3 separate regions of the Homo sapiens genome follow, and regions 1 and 2 are each linked to region 3. The links come from fine-mapping of genetic effects on gene expression. Tissue or cell type: whole blood. Region 3 holds a variant in brackets; each other region holds the start of a gene. All regions are shown on one strand. Distances are between the middles of the regions.

Region 1 (8,100 bases), 75 kb before region 3:
TTGCCAGACCCCCCTGCCCAGGCCACCAGAGCCTGATAACACAGGTCAGTGTCCTGGACATCCCTCCCTTTCCCCCACACCCTCCACTGCAGAGCCCAGAGCGTGGGAGGCTGCAGGCCCTGGGGCAGCCAGGCGTGATCCCAGCCCCAGACACGCACACACCACACATAGAAAGAGGAACATCACTGGGGACTTACCGTGTGTAGGGCTTGGCTCTAAACTCTCCACACCTTTTACGTATTTGATCCTTACAACCTGAGCTGGATTCTGTATGTACCCTCATTTTACAGCAGGGAAAACTGAGGCTCAGAGAGGGTAAGCAACTTGCCTGCGGTCACACAGCCAAAAAGAGACCAGGATGGGAGCCAGCCAAGGTAGCTTGACTCAGAAACTCACACATGTACACCACAGCTGTCACACACATATGGGCACATAACAGAGTGGACACAAACACACACACACACATTTGCACGCACGCACACATTAACACCCAGCGAAAGTCTGGGTGCAGTGGCTCATGCCTGAAAGCCAGCACTTTGGGAGGCCGGGGCAGGTGGATTACCTGAGGTCAGGAGTTCGAAACCATCCTTGCCAACATGCTAAAACCCCGTCTCTACTAACAATACAAAAATTAGCTGGGCATGGTGGCATGCGCCAGTAATCCCAGCTACGCGGGAGGCTGAGGCAGGAGAATTGCTTGAAGCCAGGAGGTGGAGGTTGCAGTAAGCCGAGATCGAGCAACCGCATGCACTCCAGCCTGGGCGACAAGACTGAAATTCCATCTCAAAAATAAATAAATAAATAAATAAATAAATAATAAATAAATAATAATAAAGTGAGGAATTAATTAATTAAAATAAAAAATAAATATAAAAGACACAGCTGTAAATTTTTAAATTGTGATAGAAACAATATATTCTTAAAGTGAAAACCCTACCTCAGTTACATGTGATTTATGTTTTTTGGATTAATCTGGATTTTATAATTAGAAATAAAAATGTAAGGCTGGGCGCGGTGGCTCACGCCTGTAATCCCAGCACTTTGGGAGGCCAAGGTGGGCAGATCACGAGGTCAGCAATTCGAGACCAGCCTGGCCAAGATGGTGAAACCCCGTCTCTACTAAAAATACAAAAATTTGCCGGGTGTGGTGGCCCATGCCTGTAATCCCAGCTACTCAGGAGGCTGAGGCAGGAGAATCGCTTGAACCCGGGGGGCGGAGGTTGCAGTGAGCCACTGCACTCCAGCCTGGGCGACAGAGTAAGACTCTGTCTCAAAAAAAAAAAAAAAAAAAAGAAAAGAAATAAAAATGTAAGATTTTGAGTCCACATAATTATTTGTTGAAAATAATACAAGTCAGTATAATAGAGAAGCATTCATATATTCAACACTGTGAGACAAAACACCAGAGACCTTGGATTTGATAATTGATCTGATATCCTGGACAGTATTCATATGTACAGTGATAGCTATCTTTCTTTGGTGTTTTTTTTGTTTTGTTTGTGTGTGTGGTGTGTGTGTGTGTGTGTGTGTGTGTGTGTAGTTTTATGGTTCTGAGTTGGTGGCCAGTAAGTTCCATGTAGTGTTGGCACTTATTTAATTAACTATTCATGATTTTGTTAATAGCTTGTTATAGAATTCAGGCATATATTTTTCAGCATAAGAAGCCAAGCACACCAGCTTGTCATTGGAGAGAATATATTAAGTGAGAAAAACATTCAGGAATCAGAGCTTTAACATGTTAAAGTTAGTGCTAAACATTGTCATATTGGATCTGAACCTATCCTAATATATAACCATAAAGCTTGACTTCTGCATTGGAACTATGCTTTCATAAATAAAGGATATCTCATTGATTAAAAAAAATTTTTAAAAAGACACAGCTGGAAACATAACAGTTTCAGGCAACAACTGTATGTTCCAAATATGGTCACACACACATCACAACTTAAAGGGAAATGGGGTGGGCTGAGTGGGTCTTTATCTGTGTGTCAGGCTTGTCCACATCCTGGTTCTTGTGATCACACAGTAGTGCACAGATACAAAACAGGTACACACAGTTGACACCCGGAAACCTATCCACCGCACCACAGAGGTCACCGTCTGTCTCCCACACACTCGGTCACATTTTCACACAAGTCAAATCACACGAGGACGGAACTGGGGGAAGTAACCATGCAGTCATTTCCCAGGGGTACAAAGAAACTCACATAGAGCCCCACAGAGCCCAGGCCCAGGGTCTGAGACCTGTCCAAAGGCCCCACCGACGACCAGCCACACGCCGGGAGAGTCACCTCCTTCCCCTGGTCTGCACCATCCTGAGCTCCCGAGTAACTCGAGTGGACTCCAGGGTTGAAAAAGGAAATGGTCGTCCCAGATCTGAGAGAGGCTGCCAGGCTGGGCTCTGGGCCTGGGTTGGGGCCCCCACACTGGGCCCCTCGGCCCCCCACCCTCAGCCCCCTCTGGCTTCCCCATTGGCAGTAGAGAGGGAGGGAACTTCATAAGTCACAGAGAGGGGCTGAAGAATACAGAGAGTCAGACAGATGGAGATGGGAGAGGCATAGGGAGATGGGAGAGACATAGGGAGATGGCAGAGAAAGGGAGAGACGGGGAGATGGGGAGAGACAGAGAGAGATGGGAAGATGGGGAGAGACCACAGGGAGGCAGATGAGAAGAAAGAAACAGGGATGGGGCCAGACACAGAGAAAGGAAACTTCTTTAGTTTCCATCTTCAGTTATAAATGATGAAAGAGACAACTGATGACAGAGACAAAGTTACAAGAGGGAGAAAGAGACAGGGGGAAGACGAGGGGGAGGGGAGACACATCTGGGGGAGAGGAGGAAGAATTGGGGTGCCAGAGAGAGCAAGGAGGGAGAGGAGGCCGATGGGGGAGGAGAGAGTAATGTTCAGCCCAGTGAGGGGGTGTCCCTTTCCCCCACTGCAAGGTTTTGGGGAAGAAGCCAGAGGCCTGAGGCCAAGACTGAGGCTTTGAGCGGAAAGAAGGAGGGGGCGAGTTATTCACGAAACGCCCGCCTTGCCCTGAGTTTCCAGAAGGTGATGTGGAGTTTCCATCCCTCAGCCTGTCTGCAGACAGGGGTACCCGGGGAGGACAGCTGGCCCAGAGGAGTTGCGAGACTAAAGTGAATGATTGCCACAGTCATTCCCTCCGGTGGCTTCTCCCCAAGTACTTGGCGCCAGAGCGCCCAACATTGTGCATACATGGTCGCTCCTAATTCGTGGGCCCGGGGGACATTATCAGCCTTACTTTGGGATATTTTAGGAGCCTCGGAATGCAGAAAGTGGTTTTAGCCCAGCTGGAGGAAATGGGCCGAAGCGGGATTCGAACCGGCGGATTCGTTTCTCTGCAGCCCGGAGCCGCGTAGCCCCGCCCCGGTCTCCCTAGAAACAGGCACCCGTGTCTCCATAGCAACCGCTCCATCTGATTGCCCCTCCCCGCTCCCAGAGGCCACCTAGTGCGCAGGCCCGCCTGATGTCGTCCCACGCCGTGCCGGCTCTCAGGCGCCGGAAGTGAGCTGCGCAGCGCCGGAAGCGGCGGACGCAGGAGGCCTCGTGGAGGACACAGCAGCATGGGACAGTCAGGGAGGGTAAGGCCCGGCAGCTTGGGAGGCAGGTGGCGCAGGTGGGGTCCCGGCCGAGGTCGCGGCGCTGACCCTTTGTCTCTCGTCGCCGCAGTCCCGGCACCAGAAGCGCGCCCGCGCCCAGGCGCAGCTCCGCAACCTCGAGGCCTATGCCGCGAACCCGCACTCGTTCGTGTTCACGCGAGGCTGCACGGGTCGCAACATCCGGCAGCTCAGCCTGGACGTGCGGCGGGTCATGGAGCCGCTCACTGCCAGCCGTCTGCAGGTTTGTACCCCACCCCCAGCCCGCCTCCACCCACCCTCGGCCTAGTCTTCGTAGCTGCAGTAATGGCTCCCGCTGTAAAACTGTGGGAGGACTTAAGTCTCCCCAGCTGGAAAAAAAGACCCTCATGGGGAGCATCATTTCTGCCTTTCAGGGCTTTTGCTGGGCTGGAGTGAGGGCGCGCAGCTTGGGAGATAGATAGTCGCCTAAGCCTGACAGTTAAGACTGGAATCTGGAGCCGGGCGTGGTGGCTCATGCCTGTATTCCCAGCATTTGGGGATGCTGATGCGGGAGGATCACTTGAGCCCAGGAATTCGAGACCAGCCTGAGCAGCATGGTGAAACCCCGTCTTTACAAAAAATAGAAAAATTAGTCGGATATGGTGTTGCGTGCCTGTAGTCCCGGCTACTCGGGAGGCTGAGGTGGGAGGATTCCTTGAGCCCAGGAAATTAAGGCTGTAGTGAATCGGGATCGTGCCACTTCACTCCAGTCTGGGCGACCGGAGGAGACCGTGTTAGAAAAAAAAAGACTAGAATCTGGAGGCAGCAAAGCAGGGTTGGAAACTGACTTCTCCCCAGTATCTGATGCAAGTTACTTAACCTCTCTGGGCCTGAGTTCGCTCATTTGTCAATGGGAAGATGCGCTGTGAGCAAGAGACAGAGTTAGAACTCAAATCTGCGTCCGACTGACTCTAAAGGCTAAGATCCTTTTGCTCCTCTGGGCTTGTTGAAAGGGTCAGATGCAAGACAGACCATAACAGGATCTGCACCGTCAGCTTATAGTTGTCACAACAAGGGATAAGCTATGTTTTCTTTTTTTCTTTTTGTCATTTCCAGGTTCGTAAGAAGAACTCGCTGAAGGACTGCGTGGCAGTGGCTGGGCCCCTCGGGGTCACACACTTTCTGATCCTGAGCAAAACAGAGACCAATGTCTACTTTGTGAGTAGACGCCCTCACCCTTCATCTCCCCCAGACCCCCCCTTCCCCTATCTCTCATGATGAACACATATGCCTCTGAGCTGCTGTGATTTCTGGCTTCAAAGTAAACGCTCTGAAGAAGAGATGGGGCAAAGGTGCCTACTCCGGGCACCTCTGCTAGACCCCTCCAGAGTCACTGATCTTTTCTTCTCCTGCAGAAGCTGATGCGCCTCCCAGGAGGCCCCACCTTGACCTTCCAGGTCAAGAAGGTGAGAGGGGTGGAGGTGGTACAAAGCCATGTGGGGTGGGAGCTGGACTTGGGGTTGTCCGCAGCCATGTGTGGTTGGTGGTCACCCCCTCCTCTCTCCTGTCCTACAGTACTCGCTGGTGCGTGATGTGGTCTCCTCACTGCGCCGGCACCGCATGCACGAGCAGCAGTTTGCCCACCCACCCCTCCTGGTACTCAACAGCTTTGGCCCCCATGGTATGCATGTGAAGCTCATGGCCACCATGTTCCAGAACCTGTTCCCCTCCATCAACGTGCACAAGGTGGGTCTGGCCTGGCGAGGTGGCAGGTATGGGGGGGTGCAGCGGATAGAGGTGCCACAGGCCCTCAGATGGATTGCTCACTCCTCCCAGCGCTGAGACTGGGAGCTCCTGGGTCTGCTGAGTCCTGAGGTCAAATCCCACTCCTGTGTCTGATGATGCTGGGCAAAAGTGTCCAGAGATTCCCCCAGCGGTCCACACCCCGTGAGCTGCACCTTTTCCAGCCGGTGGAAAGAAATACTGATGGAGCTCTGTTTCCCACGTGTGTTGAGTGCTGGGCTGAGCAGGATCGTAGCATCTCTTCTTAGGGCCCTGTTTTACAGAGGGAAGCTGCGGGCCCAGTGCTATGGCTTCGGCCTGTAATCCCAGTACTTTGGGAGGGCGAGGTGGGAGGATCGCTTGAAGCCAAGACTTTGAGATCAGCCTGTGCAACATAGCGAGACCCCATGTCTACAAAAAGTAGATTTTTAAAAAGCCCGGTGTGGCGGTGCATGCCTGTAGTACCAGCTACTGGGGAGGCTGAGGTGGGAGGATCACCTGAGCCCAGGAGGTCAAGGCTGCAGTGAGTTGTGTTCACGCCACTCTACTCCATCCTGGGTGACAAAGCGAGACACTGTCTCAAAAAAAAAAAAAAAAGCAAATCTGAGGCTGGCAGAGATGCTAAGTTTAGATTCCAGGGGGCAGGACTGGATTTTTAATTTCATCTGGCTCCTGAGTCCTAGCTCCTAATCCTTGTCACTAGTGACTCTCAGATGGGACTTATAAATTATATATAAGATATCAGTCATCAGGGAGGCTAATACGGCTCTGGGACCAGAATTTCTTGTTTACCTTTTTTTTTTTTTTTTGAGACGGAGTCTTGCTCTGTCTCCCAGGCTGGAGTGCGGTGGCACAATCTCATCTCATTGCAAGCTCCGCCTCCCAGGTTCACGCCATTCTCCTGCCTCAGCCTCCCGAGTAGCTGGGACTACAGGTGCCCGCCACCACACCCCGGCTAATTTTTTGTATTTTTAGTAGAGACAGGATTTCACCGTGTTAGCCAGGGTGGTCTTGATCTGACCTCGTGAGCTGCCCGCCTCGGCCTCCCAAAGTGCTGGGATTACAGGCGTGAGCCACCGTGCCCGGCCTTCTTTACTTTTTTTTTAAGAGACGGGGTCTCCGTACGTTGGTCTTGAACTCCTGGGCACAAGCAATCCTGCAGCCTCCGCTTCCCGAGTAGCTGAGACTACAGGCGTGCACCACCACATCCAACTCATTTTTCCATCTACTTTTTGTAGACATGGAGACTCGCCGTGTTGCCCAGGCTGGTTTTGAACTCCTGGGCTCAGGCAGTCCCACCACTTCAGCCTCTGGAGTAGCTAAAACTGCAGGTGCGAGCTGGAAGCAGCATTTCTAGCCAGTGCCACAGTCCACGAACAGTGTGTGTATCCCCCAAAGCCCCCACTTCCCCAAACTTTGCCATGAGTCTACTGGACTATGCTCTCTTCCTCCCCTTCCAGGTGAACCTGAACACCATCAAGCGCTGCCTCCTCATCGACTACAACCCCGACTCCCAGGAGCTGGACTTCCGCCACTAGTGAGTGTCCCAGCAGGATGGGAGACGAGGGGGTGCCGGGTGGGGGCCTCCACATGCGGCTGATGACAGCACTTCTGCTGAGACGCTGTGATTGCTCTGTCCAAAGTAAACGCCCTGACGCACTGTGGGAAGGGTGAGATGGGCACCGCCAGCCCCATCACGTGCCCCCTGACCACCCCCTTGCCGTCCACTCATGTTCCTGCAGTAGCATCAAAGTTGTTCCTGTGGGCGCGAGTCGCGGGATGAAGAAGCTGCTCCAGGAGAAGTTCCCCAACATGAGCCGCCTGCAGGACATCAGCGAGCTGCTGGCCACGTGAGGAGGGCATAGGGCGGGAGGCCACTGCGGCCCGGGGACCCCAGAACAGGACCGGGAGCCTGAGCTCCCCCACTGAGCCCTGTTATGTCCTACACACAGGGGCGCGGGGCTGTCGGAGAGCGAGGCAGAGCCTGACGGCGACCACAACATCACAGAGCTGCCTCAGGCTGTCGCTGGCCGTGGCAACATGCGGGCCCAGCAGAGTGCAGTGCGGCTCACCGAGGTGAGGCCCAGGGCAGGGGGACCCCCGGGCTCCACCAGTCCCAACGGTGGGCTGACGCTTCTTCCTCGTCCCCTCAGATCGGCCCGCGGATGACACTGCAGCTCATCAAGGTCCAGGAGGGCGTCGGGGAGGGCAAAGTGATGTTCCACAGTTTTGGTGAGGCCGGGGCCGCCGGGGGTGGGGGGTCATGGGTGTGGAGCTGCACCCGGATCTTGGTGACCCGCGTCTCTTGGCTCAGTGAGCAAGACGGAGGAGGAGCTGCAGGCCATCCTGGAAGCCAAGGAGAAGAAGCTGCGGCTGAAGGCGCAGAGGCAGGCCCAGCAGGCCCAGAATGTGCAGCGCAAGCAGGAGCAGCGGGAGGCCCACAGGTCCAGGCAGAGCTGGGAAGGGCAGGGCCAAGGGGGGGTCCCTGGGATGGGCGGCTATGTTGACCCCCACGCCCTCCTCCAGAAAGAAGAGCCTGGAGGGCATGAAGAAGGCACGGGTCGGGGGTAGTGATGAAGAGGCCTCTGGGATCCCTTCAAGGACGGCGAGCCTGGAGTTGGGTGAGGACGATGATGAACAGGAAGATGATGACATCGAGTATTTCTGCCAGGCGGTGGGCGAGGCGCCCAGTGAGGGTATGGAGTGGGGTCTGCAGCAGGGCACCCAGAGCCTGTCCTT
Region 2 (8,100 bases), 97 kb before region 3:
AGCCGAGATCGCACCACTGCACTCCAGCCTGGGCGACAGAGCGAGACTCCATCTCAAAAACAAAAAAAAGGAAGAAGAATAAGAGGAGGAGGAGGAGGAAGAGAAGGAGGAGGAGGGAGGAGGAGGAAGGAGGAGGAGGAAGGAGAAGGACAAAGAGAAGAAGAAGACAGCAACAGAAAATGAGAGACATGATTAATCCAGCATGCTTAATAGTTTAGTAGTAGATTTTTCCATGGTGTCCTTCCCAAAAGGTTTCACCAACGGATGCTGTCTCTAATGATTTGGGAGATTTCTCATTTCCCTACAGCTTCTCCAGCTCTGAGCATTCCCGATCAATTTTTCATTTGACTCAACTGGAGTGGGAAATTGACTAGATTGTGAAAAGCATGCACATGCTCCAATGGTCTCCATCTCCTCCACAATATTTTTTTTCTTTTCTTTTTTTTTTTTTTTTTGAGATGGAGTTTTGCTCTTGTTGCCCAGGCTGGAGTACAATGGCACGATCTCGGCTCACCGCAACCTCCGCCTCCTGGGTTCAAGCAATTCTCCTGCCTCAGCCTCCCGAGTAGCTAGGATTACAGGCATGCGCCACCATGCCTGGCTAATTTTGTATTTTTAGTAGAGACAGGGTTTCTCCATGTTGGTCAGGCTGGTCTGGAACTCCCGACCTCAGGTGATCCCCACCTTGGGCTCTCAGCCTCCCAAGGTGCTGGGATTACAGGCGTGAGCCACCGTGCCCAGCAATTTTTTTTTTTTTTTGAGATGGAGTCTCACTCTATTGCCCAGGCTGGAGTGTAGTTGTGCGATCTCGGCTCACGGCAACCTCTGCCTCCCGGGTTCAAGTGATTCCCCCACCTCAGCCTCCCGAGTAGCTGGGACTACAGGCACACACCACCATGCCTGGCTATTTTTTGTATTTTTAGTAGACAGGATTTTGCCATGTTGGCCAGGCTGGTTTCGAACTCTTGGCCTCAAGTGATCTGCCCTCCTGGGCCTCCCAAAGTGCTGGGATTACAGGTGTGAGCCACTGCACCCGGCCTTCCTCCATAATTGAACACAGTCGCCCAGCTTAAGCCTCCAAGGGTCCAGTTCCAGGTCAAGATTTGCTGCTTTTTTTGTTTTGTTTTGTTTTGTTTCGTTTTGGTTTTGAGACAGAGTCTTGCTCTGTCACCCAGGCTGGAGTGCAGTGGCATAATCTTGGCTCACTGCAACCTCTGCCTCCTGGGTTCAAGTGATTTTCCTGCCTCAGCCTCCCAAATAGCTGGGATTACAGGTACCCGCCACCACGCCCAGCTAATTTTTGTATTTTTAGTAGAGATGAGGTTTCCATGTTAGCCAGGCTGGTCTCGAATTCCTGACCTCAGGTGATCCACCTACTTTGGTCTCGTAAAGTGCTGGGGTTACAAGAGTGAGCCACCGCGCCTGGCTGATGGGGTCTCACTATGTTGCCCAGCATGGCCTCGAAATCCTGGCCTCAAGTGATCCTCCTGCCTTGGCTTCCCAAGTGCCGAGATTACAGGCATGAGCCACTGTGCCCAGTCAATGAGCTTTTAATGTACATAATGTGGCTGAAGTGATGTGGGACTTTCAGGCTAGATCATAAAAAGATACAACTTCCACCTGGCTCTCAGCTCTTGGAAGGTGCTCGGGAGGCCAGCTCCCATGCTGGGAGTACACTCATGCCACTCAAGTATACTGGGAGGAATCGAGGCATCCCGCCAATCATAGCACCCATCTGCATGCCCTGAGAGTGAGCCACCTTGGAAGCAGATTCGCCAGCCCCCGTCAAACCTTCAGATGACTGAAGCCCTGACCAACTCCTTAACTGCAACCTTCTGAGAGGCCCTGAGCCAGAACAGCCCAGCAGCAAAGCCATTTCTCAAGTCCTAAGCTACAAAGACCACATGAAATCATAAGGATGGACCAGGTGCAGTGACTCACACCTGAAATCCCAGCATTTTGGGAGGCCAAGGCAACAGGATCACTTAAGCCCAGGGGTTCAAGACCAGCCTGGGCAACATAGTGAGACCCCCCCGCCCCCAGCTCTACAAAAAAGTATAAAAATTAGCCGGGAGTGGTGGCACATGCATGTAGTCCCAACTACTCGGGAGGCTGAGGCAGGAGAATTGCCTGAACCCGGGAGGCAGAGGTTGCAGCGAGCCGAGATCGTGCCACTGCACTGCAACCTGGGTGACAGAGCAAGACTCTGTCTCAAAACAAAAACAAAACCCAAACAAAACAACAACAAAATAACAAACAAATTAGCCGGATGTGGTGGCACATACCTGCAGTCCCAGCTACTCAGAAGGCCAAGGCCGGAGGATTGCTTGAGCTCAGGAGGTTGAGGCTGCAGCGGAGCTATGATTGTGCCACTGCACGCCAGCCTGGGTGACAGAGTGAGACCCCGTCTCTTAAAACAAATTTAAAAAAATGCTAGCTCTACGAGGGCAGGGATCTTTGTTTTGTTTGCTGTCATGTCCACAGTGCCTGGAACAGCATTGGGAACAGAGTACACGCTCTATGTGGTTGCCACGGTGATTATAACCTAACAGACCTTTGGTCTGCATATTCTGCGCTAAAAAAAAAAATCAAAAAACAAAAAACCTACCAGATCTGATTTATGTCAGGGCTAGCTCAGACTCTTACCTGTTTCCTGCCCACTCAGTGCCCATCTCGGCCAGTGAATGGGACATAGCTATGACCTCCCTCTGCACTGGGCAAATAGATTAGTAACTGGCAACTATGACAGGCGATCCACTCCAAACCTCGCCACTTCCCTCAGGATAAAATCCCAGGTCTTCTGTGCAGTTTCCAGCCCCCATCCTGCCTAGGATTCCACCATTCAGCCACAAGGAATCATGAACTGCTTGTAGTTTGCAAATACAGTAGTCTCCAGAGTGGAGTACATACACCCTATAAACAAAGCTTTGGGGTTCAACTGGAAAAACTTTAGAATATCTAGATTTGGGGGGTTTTATTGTTTGTTTTTTAGTCTTTTAAAAATAACTTTTTCCTTTTCTTTTTTCTTTTTTTAAAGACAAGGTCTTGCTATGTTGCCCAGGCTGGTTTTGAACTCCTGACCTCCAGTGATTCTCCCACCTTGACCTCCCAAAGTGCTAGCATTACAGGTGTGAACCATCATGCCCAGCTCCATTTATCTATCAATATTTTATATAACAGTTAACAGAATATATTGATATAATTGTATTTGTATATAATTTATAAATAATATCCATCTTTGAGGCCAGGAGTTTGAGACCAGCCTGGGCAACATAGTGAGACCCCGTCTCTACAAAAAAAATAGAAAATTAACCAGGCATAGTGGCATATGCCAGTAGTCCCAGCTACTTAGCAGGCTGAGGCAGGAGGATCGTTTGAGCCCAGGAGTTAGAGGCTGCAGTGAGCCACCATCAAACCACTGCACTCCAGCCTGGGCAACAGAGCAAGATCTTGTCTCAAAAAATAAATAAATGAATAAATATCCATCTGGGGGTGTAACTTTAACACTTTTACCTATAGGGGTGTGCAATGGAGAAAAAAATTTGGAGTCGTTGAACACAATGCTATTTTGCTCCTCAGAGAGTATCCGGCAGTCTCTGGAGACGTTTTTGGTAGTCACAACAGGGAGAGTAGGGAACCACTGGCATCTAGTGGGTGGAGGCCAGGGATGGTGTTAAATGTCCCCCAATACACAGGACAGTCCCCCACACAAAGAACTAGGCCGCCCAAAGTGTCAAGAGTGCTGGGCTTGAGAAGCCATTGCCCAAAAACCCCAGACTTAGTCTTGCTTTGGGGGCTCTGCACGGCTGCCTCATCTCCCCACTCTATTCCTCCCCTAGCTAAGACCTCCAATTTCAGTGACTCTACAAAGCATCCCCTCCTCCAATGAAGTTGCCATCTCTGTGTCCCCAGGCTGGGCCAGAGCCCCACCACCTAAGGGCTCCCTGATGTGCCCTGTACTGGGTTAGAATTGTCCGTCCCACGGGGTTCTTAACCATTGCAGATTCCCTGGATCCCTGAGACAGCCGGATTCTACCGGGCTACTAGAGACCAAGAATCTGTATTTTTCTCAAGCACCGCTCCCCCCAACCACACACACACTGCCTGCCCCTATCAAGGGCACACAGCAGGTGGCCCAGTGACTAGTTGAACGCCTACTGCAAGCCAGGCGCTATTACGCGATCCACTCGGGAATCTTGGCACATACTCCACTCCATGGTGTAGACACCAGGATTCTCCCCATTTCACAGAGGGGTAAACTGAGGTTGAGAGAGGTGACCGTAGCTAGGACAGAGACTCAGGGCAGGAAAAGGGCCCAGGTCCTCATGAGCGCCAGATTCCCGGGGAAGGAGGGAGAACAGAGAGGAGGGTGATGAACTGGGGGAGCGCGCGCTGGGTGGGGGGGCGCGGGGCCTCGCCGCGGCCTTCTGATGCGGCCCCGCCCCCACGAGGGACGTGAAGACGCGGACCCCGCGCAGCGTGGGGACATGTGACCGACTGCAGAGGCCGCGCCGCCTCCCCCGTCCGAGGTCTGCGCGCTCCGCCGCAGGGTGCAGACCCGGGGCGCCCGCCTGGGTTTGGGGCGCAAGAGCAGAGGCGGAGCCAGGGCGGAGCCAGCGCGCCGGGTCCCCCCTGAATCGAAAGCGAAACAGGGGCCGGGGAGGAAGGGCGGAGCCGGCCCCGAGGCACCGCCCCCTGCCCTGCGCGGCTGCTGGACCGACGGGCGCACCCAGGTAGGGGGGCGGCTGAGCCGCGCAGTGCGGACCCTCGCGGGGAACTGCGCCGCCGCCACCATGTCTCAGGAAGGTGTGGAGGTAAGCGATGGCTACGGCTGGGCCGGGGTCAGCCGCGACAGACCCCGAGGAGCGGCCGGGAGGCGCGGAGGGGGCTTCGCAGTTCCTGGGGACCCCCATCCTAGAACCCCAGATCCTTACCCCTGCCTGGCGCTCGCCCCCCTTGAAAAGGAAAGTGACTCCCACGTTTCCCCAGAGCGAAATGAGGCCTCCCCGAGGAAAAGCGGGGGCTGCAGGGTCAAAGGTCAGAGGCCAGAGATAACCTGGCCGCCCCCCCACACCTTAGGCTGGGACGCTCGCCCCAGTCCGCGCCTTCCCCCAACGCCCTGTGGGGACTTTGGCTTTTTCCAGGAAATGCCGTAAAGGGATGAAAGGCGGGGGGGGGGCGGCGGAGGCCAAAACCAAGGGTCAAGTTCGGGCCGGGAGAACGGTGCCTAGAGATGGGGGAGGGATGATCCCGTTTCCCCTTCCCCCACCGGAACCCCCCTGTCTCCATCCCAGCTGGAGAAGAGCGTCCGGCGCCTCCGGGAGAAGTTTCATGGGAAGGTATCCTCCAAGAAGGCGGGGGCTCTGATGAGGAAATTCGGCAGCGACCACACGGGAGTGGGGCGCTCCATCGTGTACGGTGAGGCTGCAGGGGTCCCGGGCCTGGTGCGGGGACCGCGCGTGGGAGCGCCGAGGGGGCGTGGTCTAGGGAGAGGCGTTGAGATCACCTCCCCCGGAGGTCCCAGCCTTGGGGAGGCTCTGCGTCGCGGCTCTGGGTGGCCTGGAACTCCCACAGACCCTTCAAGGGCCCTTCCCTTATATGCACTCTCCCCCGCAGGGGTAAAGCAAAAAGATGGCCAAGAACTAAGTAACGATCTGGATGCCCAGGTAACCTATCCCCTCCCCTCGCAAAGGACCGGGTCACGGGAGGGAGAGCAAGAGGGGGGACCCGACCCGTTCATGGTGACTGACCCCCCTCTGAAACAGGAGGGACCAGGCATTGTCGGTCCATAACTCATCACCCAATCTCACTTTTTCACCTCTCCATCATTTGTCCGGCCAGGGAGCCTGCAAACAGTAGGCGCTCATTATGTGCTGATTGTATTCAATGGGGGAGAGAGCCATGAAACTAAGCAATGAAAGGAGCCAGGATTATTGCCATCATAGCGGGGGCGCAGAGGTCAGAGAAGGCTTACTGGAGGAGGAGGTACCAAGTCTTAAAGGATGGGGAGGAGTGAGCCCTGGGAGGGGAAAGGGAAAGAAAGGCAGGGGTCTTGGGGTGGGGGAGGGAATGGCATAAGCAAAGGCTGGGAGGTGGGGAAGGGTTGTTAGTGGCAGTCTCTAGAAAGGCTAGGATGAGCAGAGGATTGGGGAGGAGAGAGAGGCAGGGGAATGGAACCCTTGTGTTGAATGAATGAATGAATGAATGAATGAATGAATGAATGAATGGCTTTGAAGCACAGGTGCATCATGGCTACTTTGCTTCTTTGACAGCTTTGGTGATGGGAACGCTGTGGATTTAGCCTGCCTGAAAGGCTTAGTGTAGGGCTGTTAAAGAGTATAATAGGCCAGGCGCGGTGGCTCACGCCTGCAATCCCAACATTTTGGGAGGCCGAGGCGGGCGGATCACCTGAGGTCGGGAGTTTGAGACCAGCCTGACCAACATGGAGAAACCCGTCTCTACTAAAAAATACAAAATTAGCTGGGCATGGTGGCGCATGCCTGTAATCCCAGCTACTCGGGAGGCTGAGGCAGGAGAATCACTTGAACCCAGGAGGCGGAGGTTGCAGTGAGCTGAGATCACACCATTGCACTCCAGCCTGGGCAACAAGAGCGAAACTCTGTCTCAAAAAAAAAAAAAAAAAAAAAATGCCGGGCGCGGTGGCTCACGCCTGTAATCCCAGCACTTTGGGAGGCCAAGGCGGGCGGATCATGAGGTCAGGAGATCGAGACCATCCTGGCTAACATGGTGAAACCCCATCTATACTAAAAATACGAAAAAAAAAATTAGCCAGTTGTGCTGGCAGGCCCCTGTAGTCCCAGCTACTCAGGAGGCTGAGGCAGGAGAATGGCGTGAACCCGGGAGGCGGAGCTTGCAGTGAGCCGAGATCGCACCACTGCACTCCAGCCTGGGCAACAGAGCGATTCTCCGTCTCAAACAAACAAAAACAAACAAAACCAGAGTATAACAAAACATGTATCATAGTCTACATTTATACATATAAAAGTATGATAAAAATGATAGCAGAGGGGCCAGGTGTGGTGGCTCACGCCTGTAATTCCAGCACTTTGGGAGGTTGAGGCGGGCAGATCACTTGAGGTCAGGAGTTCGAGATTAGCCTGGCCAACACGGTGAAACCCCTTCTCTATTAAAAATACAAAAAATTAGCTGGGCGTGGCAGTGCATGCTTGTAATCCCAGCTACTTGGCAGGCTAAGGCAGAAGAATCACTTGAACCTGGGAGGCAGAGGTTGCAGTCAGCCAAGATTGTGCCATTGCACTCTAGCCTGGGAGACAAGAGCGAAACTCCGTCTCAAAAATATAATAATAATAATAATAATAATAATAATAATAATAATATTAGCAGAGAGTAGCATTCATTGAGTACTTCCCACATGGCAAGATTCCAGGAATTTATTTATTTCATCACTGCAGTGACCCCAGGAGACAGGTCCTATTATTTATCCCCATTTCACAGACAAAGAAACTGAGGCCGAAGTCACTTGCCAGCAAGCAGGGGCAGCTGCGATTTGAACCCTGGCCACCTGGAGTCAGAGCCTGGGCTCTAACATGCCTGTCAGTGGGAACCCAGGGGGCAGGGAGTGGCTTGCCCAAGTCCCCACAGCTGGAAGTGATACAGCTGGGATTTGAACCCACATCTCTCTCCCACTTAGCCGAGCACAACGTGGCCTCAAAGGGGCGATATGTCACAACATCAACAAGCATGTGGCATTTGCAGGCAGGAAGTGAGTATGGGGGTCAGGCTAGCCTCACTCAGGCAAGCCCTCCCCTAAGCCTCAGTTTCCCCATCTGAGCAATAAGGTAACAGGTGTGCCCACCTCTCAGGGCTGCTATGAGGACAACTGAGGCCACACACCTGGCTCTCAATAAGTGAGTGGTGCTCTGTGAGCTTCTGGCGAGTTAGGGGCACCCTACTCATTGCGGCCGGGGGCCTCCCCCAGCAAACGGGTGGAAAGAGGCCTGAGCCCCATCCCCAGTTTCTGCCCCTGCTATCTCCACCCAGGATCCACCAGAAGATATGAAGCAGGACCGGGACATTCAGGTGAGTTGGTGGCTAGGGCTTGGGATGGGGGAGTTGGGA
Region 3 (8,100 bases):
CAGGAGGCTGAGGCAAAAAAATCACTTGAACCCAGGAGGTGGAGGTTGTGGTGAGCCGAGATTGTGCCACTGCACTCCAGCCTGGCAACAGAGTAAGACTCCATCTCAAAAAAAAATAAAATAAAGGGCCAGGTGAGGTGGCTTACACCTGTAATCTCAGCACTTTGGGAGGCCAAGGCAGGTGGATCACCTGAGGTCAGGAGTTCGAGACCACCTTGGCCAACATGGTGAAACCCTGTCTCTACTAAAAATACAAAAATTAACTGGGCGTGGTGGCGCATGCCTCCATCTCAAAAAATAAAATAAAAATTAAAAGAAAATAAAATAAGGCTGGGCATGGTGGCTCACGCCTGTAATCCCAACACTTTGGGAGGCCGAGGCAGGTGGATCACGAGGTCGGGATATTGAGACCATCCTGGCTAACACAGTGAAACCCCATCCTACTAAAAATACAAAAAATTATCCAGGCGTGGTGTGCGCCTGTAGTCCCAGCTACTTGGGAGGCTGAGGCAGGAGAATGGCATGAACCTGGGAGGTGGAGCTTGCAGTGAGCCGAGATCGTGCCACTGGGCAACAGAGCGAGATTCTCTCTCAAAAATAATAATAAAATAAAACAAAATAAAAATGAAGTAGCTGAGAACCAGACCTGAGCTCAAGTACTATCCTATTGTTTGTTTTTTAAAAAATTCCAGAAGAGGCTGGGCGCGGTGGCTCACGCCTGTAATCCCAGCACTTTGGGAGGCCGAGGCGGGCGGATCATGAGGTCAGGAGATCGAAATCATCCTGGCTAATATGGTGAAATCCCGTCTCTACTAAAAAATACAAAAAAAATTAGCCGGGCATGGTGGCGGGCGCCTGTAGTCCCAGCTACTCGGGAGGCTGAGGCAAAAGAATGGCATGAACCTGGGAGGCAGAGCTTGCAGTGAGCCGAGATTGCGCCACTGCACTTCAGCCTGGGAGACAACAAGACTCCATCTCAAAAAAAAAAAAAAAAAAAAAAAATTTCCATTAGAGTTCCTTTGCCTAAAACTGGGCAAGAGTCTGAGAATAAATGTTTAACCAGGCATATAAGGTCTTAGAAGGAGTAAGTATTTGTAGCACTTGTCATCTGCAACCTGTCACACTCATAGCCATGTTTTGGGATCTAATGCTGCAACTTGGTCGAAAACAACATTTTTTTTTTTTTGAGACAGTGTCTTACTCTTGTTGCCCAGGCTGGAATTACAGACACCCGCCACCACGTCTGGCAAATTTTTTGTATTTTCAGTAGAGACAGGGTTTTGCCATGTTGGGCAGGGTGGTCTCGAACTCCTGACCTCAGGTGATCCAGCCACCTTGGCCACCCAAAGTGCAGGGATTACAGGCATGAGCCACCACACCCCCAGCTAAGACAAAATTTAAAGACGTACACATCTAAGCTAGTTAGGAAGTGTCCAGTAATTACTAGTGAGGATGCGTACAAAAGAAAGGAACCTGGACACACTGACCTGGGGTCCAAGTTTAACTGCCCCCTTATATGCTACCAAAGCCTGCTTCTAGGTTGAAAATGAGCCAAGTGGGGCCGGGCACGGTGGCTCACACCTGTAATCCCAGCACTTTGGGAAGCTAAGGCGGGAGGACCACTTGAGGTCAGGAGTTCCAGACCAGTCTGGCCAACATGGTGAAACCCCATCTCTACTAAAAATACAAAGATTAGCTGGGCATGGTGGTGCCCGCCTGTAATACTAGCTACTTGGGAGGCTGAGGCAGGAGAATCGCTTGAAACTGGGAGGCGGAGGTTGCAGTGAGCCGAGATCGCGCCATTGCACTCTATCCTGGGCGATAGAGCAAGACTCTGTCATTAAAAAAAAAAAAAAAAGAAAGAAAGAAAGAGAGTTAAGCAGGGCCAGGCGTGGTGGCTTATGCCTGTAATCCCAGCACTTTGGGAGGCCAAGGCAGGTGGATTACTTGAGGTCAGGAGTTCTGGACCAGCCTGGCCAACATGGTAAGACCCCATCTCTACTAAATACAAAAATTAGCTGGGTGTGGTGGCACATACCTCTAATCCCAGTTACTTGGGAGGCTGAGGCAGGAGGGTCTCTTGAACCTGGGAGGCAGAGGTTACAGTGAGCCGAGGTTACACCACTGTGCTCCAGACTGGGCAACACAGTGAGACTCCATCTCAAAAACAATTAAAAATAAAAGGAATCATCTGCTCTTACGCTTAGCCTCTCCATCGGACTTGCTCCTCCTGGGCGTGCGAGGTTTGGAAAGGGGTTTGGGGGGGCTGTTGGCATCTGCCATTCCCACTCTACGGGCTTCACTTCTTGCTTGGTTCCCGTTTTCTAGACGTCCATTCACTTCCCGGTTGTAAGCATGAGCACCGTTCTCCAAGGACAAATCTTTATTTAAAAGGGATTTGACTTTAGCCAGGTAGCCCTCCTACAGCAGGAAAGGATAATTTAAGTAGCAGTGAATGTAAACAAGTGTCAGAGAACAAGGAAACACATGTGTTTCCTTCATCATCATCATCATCATCATCATCATCAGGCAATGAGGACAGCTGGGGATCTTGCTGCCTCCCTGGTCACAGACAAGTTACTAGGAGGAGACATTTTTCTAGAGGCTAGGATGCTGAGAACTGACTTACCTCGGATAATTCTTCTTTACGTAATTTGGTTTCCAAGTCACATAACTGATTCTTTATTTCTGTTTGCAGAAATTCGTGCAAGAGATTCAATTTCTCCTTCACACATTCCTAAGGGAAGGATATAGGTTTAGCAGTACCCACATTCCCAAGCTATTCACTAGTGGACTAATACACAAATTATTGAGCTGCCTGATCACATCACAATGAGTGAATGGCAGGCAATGCTGTCTCAGTCAAAACACTAAACAGTCATGAAATGTGTTCAGGGAATTTCCATTAGGATCACTTCACTCCTGTCTCCAAAGTGGTGAAAAATGGGAAAGCTGGAGGTGAGATGGAGACATATCATGGTTTATAAGAATAATACTGTGCTTCTGTAAAGTGTCGGCCAGGCACAGTGGCTCACACCTATAATCCCAGCACTTTGGGAGGCCGAGGCAAGTGGATTGCTTTGAGCCCCAGAGTTCAAGACCAGCCTGGGGCAACATGACAAAATCCCATCTTTACAAAAAATATTT[A/G]AAAATTAGCTGGGCATGGTGGCTTGAGCCTGTAGTTAGAGCTACTCAGGAGGCTGAGTGGGAAAATCACTTGAGCCTGGGAGGCGAAGGTTGCAGTGAGCCAAAATTGTGCCACTGCACTCCAGCCTGGGCTACAGAATGAGACCCTATCTCAAAACAATAACAAAAACACAATAAAACAGTGTTACCAGGACAAGTTACAATCCAGAGTAGATTGTTTAGGAACTGAGATTGGTTAAAAAAAAAAAAAACCTGGGCCAGGCATGGTGGCTCACGCCTGTAATTCCAGCACTTTGGGAGGCCAAGGTGGGCAGATCACGAGCAGGCGTTCAAGACCAGTCTGGCCAACATGGTGAAACCCCATCTCTACTAATAATATAAAAATTAGCTGGGCATGGTGGTGCGTGCCTGTAGTCCCAGCTACTTGGGAGGCTGAGGCAGGAGAACAGCTTGAATCCGGGAGGCAGAGGTCACAGTGAGCCGAGATCATGCCATTGCACTCTAGCCTGGGTGACAGAGTGAGACTCTGTCTCAAAAAACAAAAACAACAACAAAAAAAAACACCACCACCACCCAACTATTAGCAGCAAATTAGTGCTGACATTTAACAAGAATATCCAAATTATCTTTGAAACTCCATGGGAAAAAATGCAAAATCCATTTAAAGAAAACAAATTTCTTTTTATGAGCCACAAAGTGTGTCAGTCAGATTTGGTAATAAGAAAAATTTTAAGGTGGAGATTACCTTTTCTGTTAAGCTGTCTCTTTCCAAATCTTTGAGCCTGGGAGGAAGAAATAGGGGAGAAAATACAAACACTTGTTAAGCAACTTCATTTGCCTGTAAGAATATCACAGTTCTAAAGAAGTTTTGGACACAAACAAGTTTAACATATGAGTGTTAGAAAAAACTAAGCTGGCTTTTGTCTCCCCGCAAGAGTCTAGAGTGTCCTACTGGAATGCCTAATGCTAAGAAGTCATCTGATCTGAACAAGGTTCCCCTTTTGGGGGTCATTTTTCTGATGATTGTGAGATTACATAGCAGCTCTGTAACACAATTATGTGTATGTGTGTGTGTGTGTATATATATACATATATATGTGTATATATATACATATATATGTGTATATATATGTGTGTATATATATACATATATATGTGTATATATATGTGTGTATATATATACATATATATGTGTATATATATGTGTGTATATATATACATATATATGTGTATATGTGTATATATACATATGTGTATATATATATACACACACACACAGCAGCTCTGTAACAGAGTATGTGTGTATATATGTATGTATATATGTGTATATATATACACACACATATATACATACATACATATACATTATACAGATAGATAGACAGACAGACAGACATGGAGTCTCGCTCTGTTGCCCAGGCTGGAGTGCAGTGGTGCGATCTCAGCTCACTGCAACCCTCACCTTCTGGGTTCAAGTGATTCTCTCACCTCAGCCTCCCAAGTAGCTGGGATTATAGGTGCCACCAGCCTCGTTAATTTTTTGTATTTTGAGTAGAGACAGGGTTTCACCATGTTGGTTAAGCTGGTCTTAGATTCCTGACCTCAAGTGATCCGCCTGCCTCAGTCTCCTGAAGTGCTAGGATTACAGGCATGAGTCACCATGTCTGGCATGCATATATATATACACGTATATATATACACGTATATGTGTGTATATATACATATATATGTGTATATATACGTATATATGTGTATACATACGTATATATGTATACATATGTGTGTGTATATATATATACACGTATATATACGTGTGTATATATATATATATTTTTTTTTTTTGAGATAGGGTTTTGCTCTTGTTGCCCAGGCTGGAGTGCAATGGTGTGATCTCAGCTCAACCTCCGACTCCCAGGTTCAAGCGATTCTCCTGGCTCAGCCTCCCGAGTAGCTGGGATTACAGGCATGCACCACCACACCCAGCTAATTTTATATTTTTAGCAGAGACAGGGTTTCTCCGTGTTGGTCAGGCTGGTTTCGAACTCCCGACCTCAGGCGATCCACCTGCCTCAGCCTCCCAAAGTGCTGGGATTACAGGCATGAGCCATCATGCCCAGCCTGTATATTTTAAAAGGTACCAGAGACCAGGCATGGTGGCTCACGCTTATAATCCCAGCACTTTGGGAGGCCAAGGCGAGCGGATCACTTGAGCCCAGGCGTTCAGACCAGCCTGGGAAACATGGCGAAACTCCATCTCTACAAAAATACAAAAATTAGTGGCTGGGCGTGGTGGCTGATGCCTGGAATCCCAACATACAGCAGCAGTTGGGTGGATTACCTGAGGGCCAAGGTGGGTGGATTACCTGAGGTCAAGGGTTTGAGACCAGCCTGGCCAACATGGCGAAACCCCATCTCTACTAAAAATACAAAAATTAGCCAGGCGTGGTGGTGGGTGGCTGTAATCCCAGCAACTTGGGAGGCTGAGGCAGGAGAATCACTTGAACCCGGGAGGCAGAGGTTGCAGTGAGCTGGTCACACCATTGCACTCTAGCCTGGGCAACAAGAGTGAAACTCTGTCTCAAAATAAAATAAAATAAAATAAAATAAAAATAACTGGGTTTGGTGGCATGTGCTTGTGGTCCCAGTTACTTGGGAGGCTGAGGAAGGAAGATCACCTGAGCCTGGGAGGTCGAGGCCACAGTGAGCCGTGATTGCATCACTGCACTCCAATCTAGGAGACAGAGTGAGACCCTGACTCAAAAAGATACCAGGAAAGAGGGGGCAGGTCATATAGTTGGGGCACTCCCGTAAGGGAAATGACCTACAGCTGGTCTTTCTCCAGTTGGGTCTGACAACAGCCCATAACAAGGTGTGCCACAGTATGGCCAGTGTCAGAATGAGTAGCCCAGGGCCACAGGACACTGTGGGGAACAGCCAGCTGATGTTCCTAAAGGCCTGGTGGGGGGTGGTGGCATTTTGAGGATGAAATGGGGGAGTCAAGCATCCAGGGAAGCAAGGGGTACCCACACAGAGGGCAGATAGAGGTGAAGTTAGAGGAGGTGGCTGGCGCCTCCCCGAATAACTCATTCTTCAGGATGTCTCTAGCTAGTCATTCCTAAATGTAGAACTGCCAGGAGTTTGCCTGGGAAATCGTGGTCTGATTTGATTACTGACAATTAGTAGCTTGACTCTTTCAGGGACAAAGAGGGAAAAAAATAAAAGAACAATAGCCGGTGCAGTGCCGCGGTGCTGCGTGCCTGTAACCCCAGCTACTCAGGAGGCTGTGGTGGGAGGATGGCTTGTGGGCAGGAGTTCGAGTCCAGCCTGGACAACATAGGGCGATCCTATCTCTTCAGAAAAAAATAAAGGAACAAGAAGAGAAGGTACCAAGGAAAGGGAGAGGAACACAGGCTGTTGTTCCCAGCCTGGGTGCTAACTACAGACTGCGGGGTGAGAACAGGCCTAACCAGCTGGGTAAGTGTCTGTTGGTGGAGAGAAGGTGCCCCAGGCAGGGACCAGGCCACTGCCATCTCTGGACCTTTCCACCTAGCACCCGCACAGACAGGTGCTCAGTTATCATTTGCCTGAAGGGCAGAAGTGGCTCCTCCAGGCTGGCCTTCCTAGAGGGTAAGTGCAGGCAGCAGCATGAGGAATGCTTTGCTGGACCCATGTCTTACAACAGCTGCTCTGGGTCATGCGGGCCCTGATTCCCCACCAGCGCCGCTCACATATGAGCACCTGCTGAATGCCAGGCCCTGCTCCAGGCAAAGAGCTAAGTGATTAGATGTAGGTGTCACTAGGCAGGGACTTCCTGACTTGCTGTGTGGTTAGGAAAGACCATTCTGTAGGGCCGGGCACGGTGGCTCACGCCTGTAATCCCAGCACTTTGGAAGGCTGAGGTGGGCGGATCATGAGGTCAGGAGATGGAGACCATCCTGGCTAACACAGTGAAACCCCGCCTCTACTAAAAATACAAAAAATTAGCCAGGCGTGGTGGTGGGCGCCTGTAGTCCCAGCTACTCAGGAGGCTGAGGCAGAAGAATGGCGTGAACCCGGGAGGTGAAGCTTGCAGTGAGCCAAGATCATGCCACTGCACTCCAGCCTGGGCAACAGAGCAAAACTCTGTCTCAAAAAAAAAAAAAAAAGACTGCTCTGTAGAAGAGACACTTAGCACCCTACAAACACAGTGGTAATATAGACTGTATATTATATATACTGTATCACTTGGACTCAAGGTGCTACAAGGCCAGGCAAGACGCAGTGGCTCATGCCTGTAATCCCAGCACCTTGGGAGGCCAAGGCAGGAGGATCACTTGAGGTCAGGAGTTTGAGACCAGCCTGGGCTACACTGAGAGATCCCATCTCTACAAAAAAAATGTAAAAATTAGCTGGGTGTGGTTAGTGTGCACCTGTGGTACCAGCTACTTGGGAGGCTGAGGTGGGAGGATCGCTTGAGCCTGGGAGGTTGAGGCTGCAGTGAGTTATGATGGTACCACTGCAATCCAGCCTGTTCAGCCTGGGCAACAGAACAAGACCCTGTCTCAAAAGAAAAAAAAAAAAAAAAAAAGATGCTTTGACATCAGGATTTCCAGGAGCACAAGGAACCTCTTCCAGGCAAAAGTCATTCTACCCTTGTAGCAACTGGGGTCCAAGGAGAGCCTTAAGTCAGGAGGGCTACAGAAACTGGTACTTCCAGCCAGAGGCACACACGCTGTGGTAATAGCGTTACACTTGACTTCTCAGTCACGCCGCTGAGAAAACTGGAAGGACATGGCTTCTACCTCGACCAAGCCAGCCAGTCCCCTGATCCCGAGGTTGCCTGGGGTGTGAAGGACAAGGTTCAACTGATTGCGGAGACCAAGGTGTCCTTGCAGAATGGGTCTGCTTTCTTTCAACCCCTCATATGAACTGGGATATTTAGCCTGGCAAAGAGAATAGAGAAACCTTCAAAAC

What was found. PIP is the estimated chance that this variant, and not a neighbour inherited with it, causes the effect.
Region 1: it holds the start of PPAN, and the variant in region 3 is fine-mapped to the expression of PPAN in whole blood (TOPMed, PIP above 0.99).
Region 2: it holds the start of SHFL, and the variant in region 3 is fine-mapped to the expression of SHFL in whole blood (TOPMed, PIP 0.98).

Annotation. Positions count from the first base shown.
Region 1 is chr19:10,102,810-10,110,909 of GRCh38, forward strand. PPAN (peter pan homolog) reads left to right here and starts at 3,553. Exons shown (of 12, transcript NM_020230.7): 1 at 3,553-3,603; 2 at 3,692-3,862; 3 at 4,696-4,797; 4 at 4,995-5,045; 5 at 5,155-5,325; 6 at 6,822-6,898; 7 at 7,104-7,211; 8 at 7,314-7,437; 9 at 7,515-7,593; 10 at 7,676-7,805; 11 at 7,888-8,057. The coding sequence starts at 3,586. It overlaps PPAN-P2RY11 (PPAN-P2RY11 readthrough), which reads left to right and starts at 3,553. Exons shown (of 13, transcript NM_001198690.2): 1 at 3,553-3,603; 2 at 3,692-3,862; 3 at 4,696-4,797; 4 at 4,995-5,045; 5 at 5,155-5,325; 6 at 6,822-6,898; 7 at 7,104-7,211; 8 at 7,314-7,437; 9 at 7,515-7,593; 10 at 7,676-7,805; 11 at 7,888-8,057. The coding sequence starts at 3,586. It overlaps SNORD105 (small nucleolar RNA, C/D box 105), which reads left to right and starts at 4,842; the gene lies at 4,842-4,926. SNORD105B (small nucleolar RNA, C/D box 105B) reads left to right here and starts at 6,940; the gene lies at 6,940-7,031. It also overlaps a transcript of ANGPTL6 not described here. RefSeq lists enhancers at 1-48, 3,190-3,833, 3,430-3,479, 5,122-5,765, 6,677-7,258 and a silencer at 3,700-3,749.
Region 2 is chr19:10,081,635-10,089,734 of GRCh38, forward strand. SHFL (shiftless antiviral inhibitor of ribosomal frameshifting) reads left to right here and starts at 4,683. Exons shown (of 8, transcript NM_018381.4): 1 at 4,683-4,814; 2 at 5,295-5,418; 3 at 5,617-5,666; 4 at 8,023-8,061. The coding sequence starts at 4,794. RefSeq lists silencers at 4,382-4,601, 4,672-4,951.
Region 3 is chr19:10,178,149-10,186,248 of GRCh38, forward strand. DNMT1 (DNA methyltransferase 1) reads right to left here. Exons shown (of 41, transcript NM_001130823.3): 2 at 3,893-3,929; 3 at 2,630-2,737; 4 at 2,202-2,421; 5 at 2,039-2,086. Among named protein-coding and RNA genes, the nearest start is that of DNMT1, 13 kb to the right of the region's middle. RefSeq lists an enhancer at 5,787-6,287. The variant A/G (reference allele first, on the strand shown) is at 3,148.